Linked DNA regions of Homo sapiens: region 2 is linked to region 1. The links come from fine-mapping of genetic effects on gene expression. A gene starts in region 1. The other region holds a variant in brackets. All regions are shown on one strand. Distances are from middle to middle. Region 1 holds the start of WWC2 (WW and C2 domain containing 2). Region 2 overlaps WWC2 (WW and C2 domain containing 2).

Region 1 (2,907 bases):
ATCTCCTTAATGGATAATTTACAAATTTATAATTAGGAATACCTCCTATTATTCTTACAATAATTCTAAGAAATTTTAAGGGTAAAAAAAATATGGGACACAGAAACATTTGTGAACCTTCAGTTCCTGAACCAATTTAAAAAACAAAAAACAAAGAAACCAGGCTAAGCTCAAATCAGAGTGCCTCAATACCCAACGTTAATTTCACTACATCTCCCTTCCAAACACAATATGCCTGTTCCCGATCTGGGAGTCGGTTCAAGTTTTCAGGTGAAGACTAACGACAGACAGCGAAACCCCCAAACGCGCGTTTTTAAACTCTGAGGGGCAAAGTCAGTCACACCCACTAGCAGGGCCCGGCGGGGGGCGGGAGCCCCTTCCCAGCTCGGGACCTCCGGCCAGTCTGGGCGCCCCCGCCAAGAGCTCGCAGCCCAGGCTCCCGCGCCAAGGACGGCCTGAGGGATGCCACAGGTGGCCCGGAGGGCTCGTTCCCCAACTGGCAGTGAGGCCCTAGCCCACCCCCGCCGCCCAGAGGCCGAAGGTGTCCTGCAGCCTCCACGTGGGCACCTCGAAGCCTAGGGAAGTTCCTAACAGGGCTCAGGTGGCCCCTCGGGTCCGTTAGCCTGGCGCGCGGCGTCGGCCCGGGGCAGCGACTCCAGCCTTGCCTCGGGGCCGGGTCCCCGGAGGGGCGTCGGGAAGCCGGTGGGCGGAGGAGCCCGGGTACGGGCGGCTCCTCGGCCCCGCCGGAGCAGCCAGCCCCACATCCCTCCCGGGACCCCTCGGGGCACCGCGGGCCGGCGCCGCCCCAGCCCCCCGCGCGGCCGGGTCTCCGGGACAACAGCCGCCGTGTCCGAACGGGCCCGCGCCCCCGCGGCCGGCGCCCACCTGTCCCGGGGGTCGATCCAGCTGGTCCTCCTGGTGTTGTGGTCAATGTAGAAGACCTTGCCGTCGTAGTCCCTGGCCTCCTCCCAGCCCCGGGGCAGCGGCAGCTGACCGCTCCCGGCCCTCCTAGGCATGGTCGGCGGCCTCGCCGGCGAGCGGCGCCTCCATAGGTACCGGGCGCGGGACGCGGCGGGAACGCGGCTGCCGGGCTAGGCTGCCAACCCGCGACGCGGGCGCCGGCGAGGGGCTGAGGGGCGCAGGGCGCGGGGCGCGGCGGAACCACGCGCGGGAGGTGCCTCAGGAAACGCTGTTCGCGGCCCCGCTGCGGATCAGTCCACCATGTCTGCGTCGGAGCCGGCGAGCGAACCCTCCTCCCCCTCGCCGCCGCTGCCTCCGCCTCTTCCTCCTCCTCCGCCCCGTCCCCCTCTGGCCGCCGAGGGTCGCGGCGCCCAGGCTGCCGGAGCCGCCGCCGTCTGGGCTCGGATCCGGGAAGCTGCGGCGCTGCCGCGGCAGCGGCGGGCCCCTCATTTGCATGCGATTAGCATGCGCCCGCCCGCCTCATCTGCATGCGCATTCCTCGCGCCGCATTCCTGAGCTTAACCCCGCCGCTGCCGGCGTCGCCGCACCAGCTCGGACGCACTGCCCCGCGGGGCCGCGGCTCCAGGTGGGAGGAAGGCGGGCGAAGGAATGTGCGGCCAGCTCCCTCCCCTTGACCCCAGATAGCTCCCCTGGGCCAAACGCCGAGAGGTTTTAGAGTTTCTGGACGGGGAAGATTGCAAAAGTCTCCGCAACCTTCTCAACCTCTTTCGTCTTCTAGGGAAACCACAAAACTTTCGAGAGGAAAGGGGTGGCGGGCGGGGAGCTCTCCTCCGGAGAAAAAACCTCAACAAGCGGAGAGGGCACAAAGGCTCCCCACGCCGCGCCCCGAGCCCCTCCGGCACCCCAAGGGCGGTCCGGGGTGGTGGGAAAGCGCCAAGCCCTGGGAGTGCGTCGGTGGGTCCGGGACGGCGGGGCCTCCGCCAGGGCTCCTGGCCCTCGATGACCTCGGCTGAGACCGCGAGCCGCGCGGCGGAAAGCGGAGGAACTCCCGTCCGGCCCTGTAGCCGCCCGCACCGCGCCCCGTCACCCGCCGCCCCTTCGCGTCCGGGCGCTCCAGCCGCGGGGCCCCGGAAGCTCCTGGTCCCTGGCCTCCCCTGCTTGGTTCGGGGCGGTTGGCCGTGGACGCGCCCCGACTCTAGTCCCTTCCGTCCAGCCGCCCGCCCCAGGATGTCCCCCCACCGCAGCCCCGCCGTGGCCAGGAGGTGTGGGCGGCCACGCCGGAGGGACCCACGGCGGCGCCGGACGCCCGCCCTTCCTAGGCCCTGGCCCGGCCGGGGTGGGCCGGGACGTTCCCTGTTGCATAGGCATTTATTTATTCAGCAGCTACTACGTACGTGCTGGCCCGCACTGCCGAGGGACCGGACGCCTGCCCCAGGCGGGACAATGCCGGGTGCAGCGCTGGCGGGGCCTGGACGCCAAGCTTCAGGGTCCCCAGCCCCTCAGTCAGAGGGGGCGCCTCCCAGGCCCTGGACTCCTCTCCAGCCGGGTCTACACCACCGTCCCCCGTCATCTTCTTCTGGGTTACTGAGCAGCTTCTTTTAAAATAGCAACACCGAGGAAGGCCCCGAAGCCCAGTCTTGCACCTCGTGGTGTGAAGTCGTTTAATCCTGCCCGCTAATGCGTAAGGACTTTCCACCGTGTGCAGGACTCCGCGCTGGGCAGGGGCTCTCGCAGGGTTTGAACCGACCTCCGCCTCCCCTGCGGGTTCACAGGCCTGCGAGGAAGTCGCGTGAAGGAGATTCGCTACTGTGTGAGGCTGGCCTGCGCGGCGTGGGCAGTAGCTGTCCGGGGCTGGGGACAGCTTTCGGCTCCCCAGGCCATCCCGTCGGGGCATCTGCGGCCAATCTCGAAGGTGGAGAGGCTCAGGGTTGGAACAGACTTCACGGAAGGGGTCCTAGAAGAGGAAAGGGGTCGTGTTTGCCCTTA
Region 2 (2,907 bases), 50 kb before region 1:
GACAGAAAACCAAACACTGCATGTTCTCACTCATAGGTGGGAATTGAACAATGAGAACACTTGGACACAGGGCAGGGAACATCACACACTGGGGCCTGTTGTGGGGTGGGGAGATGGGGGAGGGATAGCATTAGGAGAAATACTTAATGTAAATGACGAGTTAATGGGCGCAGCAAACCAACACAGCACACAACCCTGCATGTTGTGCACATGTACCCCAGAACTTAAAGTATAATAATTTTAAAAAGTTTAGTTTTTAAAATCTTTTTTTAAAAAACAAACCTAATACTATATAATGACATCAACGTACAATGTAAAACTCTGATTTTGAGATTAAAATTGATGAACTTGGCTTCTGTGATGACCTTGAACTCTGTTTAAGATGCAAATCTAACTCAGACTTTGATTTTGAGATTAAAATCTATGAACTTGGCCTCTGATGACCTTGAACTCTCTGTAAGATGGAAATCTCTTCACCTATTGAAATCTCTTAAACTACTAATGGCAAGCGATAGGACCAGATGATATTTAGTAGTTTCATATAGCAAAATAAGGTTTTAAATCTGTCAACAAACAGGAATAGATCCAAAAACTGGGCAGCTGAAATGGACAGGTACAGAGTCCATTCTTCTGAAGTACTCAATGGCAGCAACAGGCTTGCAGGCCAGGACCTCTCACTCCCTGTCCAACCTAAGAACCAAGACACTGTCACTGGACCTATGCCTATCAAATGGCCCTTTCTAGGTATGTTCAGTTTCTCAACCTCAAAGAGGTCCCAGGAGAACCCCATAGCTAGTAAATCCCAGCAACCCAGAAGCCTCCTGGGTACCCTATACTACTGGGTAACAAAGAAGCAGATGAAGAGAAACCCCAGTTTATAGAAATGTTTGAGCAAACAAATGAAAAAGAAATGACTGAATGAGATCATTGTTTTGCAACCCCATATTAATTCACGGATCTAGACAGTAGATATCAACGGCTGCTAACATCTCAGACACTGTGTGCTTTCGAAATGTTCATATACATATATTCTGAATGTGAGCAAATCTCTAGATCCACTATCAATTTACAAGAAATACAAACTTGCACAATGGGGATTCTATCAGCCAAAAAAAAAAAAAAAGAGAGAAGCTATAGATTAAAAAAATACTTAAAGATTTTTTTTTTTTTTT[A/TTA]GACAGAGTTTCACTCTTGTTGCCCAGGCTGGAGTGCAATGGCGCGATCTTGGCTCACCGCAACCTCCGCCTCCCAGGTTCAAGCGATTCTCCTGCCTCAGCCTCCTGAGTAGCTGGGATTACAGGCATACACCACCACACCTGGCTAATTTTGTATTTTCAGTAGAGATGGGGTTTCTCCATGTTGGTCAGGCTGGTCTCAAACTCCCAACCTCAGGTGATCTGCCCACCTCGGCCTCCCAAAGTGCTGGGATTACAGGCGTGAGCCACCGCGCCCGGCCAAAGATTTGTTTTTCAAAAGAAACAACCACCTATGATATTTGTCATTTTGTCACCCAAGCATGTATTCCTAAAGAAAAGCAAGGAAATGATTGCCATAAAGGTCAGGATAATTACTTTTATGAGAAGGGGACTGTAAAAGGCTTCTGGGGTGGCTGGCAAAGTTCTAGTGTTCTGGTTGGTGTTAGGAGGGTATTCGCTTTATGACAATTCATTAAAGCCATACTACTTTGTCTTCTGTGGATTTCTATAGGTTTTATTTTTTACAATAAAAAAAAGACTTAGATGAGTGAGATTCTAAAGGTAATTCCAGATTATCCATTAAGCTAAGTATGTACTGAGGCACTTTGAGCATCAGTAAATAAGGCCCTTCCCTACTACCACTACTCCAATTACGAAAAAAAAAAAATTTGGATTTGATACTTTAAAAAGTCAAAATTCTGGCCTAAACCAATCCTCCTGCCTCAGGATTGCAGGCATGAGCTACTGTGCCCGGCTGGGTCCATTCCTAATTGCTCATCTACACTAAATGCTTTTTCTAACTCATTCGGGACACCCTGGCACAGGAAAGAAGCAGTTTCTTCTAGAAATTCCTAGTTGAATAGGAAAGTCCTTGCTGCAAGGAGCTCAAATTTGGGAACAGAAGTTGCATAGGAACACAGATCATTATCTTATGAGCTGAGAGCTACAACAAAGATATCTAGAAAGAAGCGAAGACATACAATCATTTTCTGAAATCCTGAGCCTATTTATGTCATTTATATAGTGCCACCTTTGGAGAGGAGGAAAGCCATTTCTGATTTAAGCAGAGAAATGGGGAAGGCAGCAGGGAACATACTCATAGAATTCAGTAAACATTAAGATAGCTTAACAAGAAAATCAGAGATGGATATCAATGTTCTTTACATTATATTAAAATGGGGAGGAGGACATACAAGCAGTAGAATAATCTTAAATACATTTACTTAGTTAAAATCTAAGATTCACATCTAATTTAAATAAGGTTAAACAAGCTTCCTAGACCAAGTTTACTAAAATTCACTATTCATCAGCAATGATATAAATAAGGAATAATATCATCACCAGATGAAACCTTGGATAGTTTCTTTTAAGCAGTATTTTTCATTAGTACTTTATATCCCAAAAAAACTCAGTTTTGCCAAGTCAGGTATTTGTCCATGAAGGGGAAAACGTGCGTTCCTAAGGTACTGTGAGAGGCCACAACCTCACACGCTACATGTATCTTTTGTACTCGGGAGGTAAAGCAGAGTATAAGGTTGGCTTTAATGAGATCATTTCACAGCAGAGCTGGAATTTCACAGAGTTCTAAGATTTCTTATAACCTGCTTTTTTTTTAACTACTCAAAACAAAAGGATTATTCAGTACAATCACTCTAAGTATTTATTTTATAAAGGCTGTTGCCATTCATTTTGAACAATGAAACAGAACAAAGTA

What was found. PIP is the estimated chance that this variant, and not a neighbour inherited with it, causes the effect.
Region 2: its variant is fine-mapped to the expression of WWC2 in whole blood (INTERVAL, PIP 0.96).

Annotation. Positions count from the first base shown.
Region 1 is chr4:183,097,601-183,100,507 of GRCh38, reverse strand. WWC2 (WW and C2 domain containing 2) reads right to left here and starts at 1,251. Exons shown (of 23, transcript NM_024949.6): 1 at 886-1,251. The coding sequence starts at 1,016. WWC2-AS2 (WWC2 antisense RNA 2) reads left to right here and starts at 1,309. Exons shown (of 1, transcript NR_024008.1): 1 at 1,309-2,907. RefSeq lists a silencer at 2,198-2,492 and an enhancer at 2,198-2,492.
Region 2 is chr4:183,147,887-183,150,793 of GRCh38, reverse strand. The region is part of intron 1 of WWC2 (WW and C2 domain containing 2); the gene reads right to left. Among named protein-coding and RNA genes, the nearest start is that of WWC2, 50 kb to the right of the region's middle. The variant A/TTA (reference allele first, on the strand shown) is at 1,173.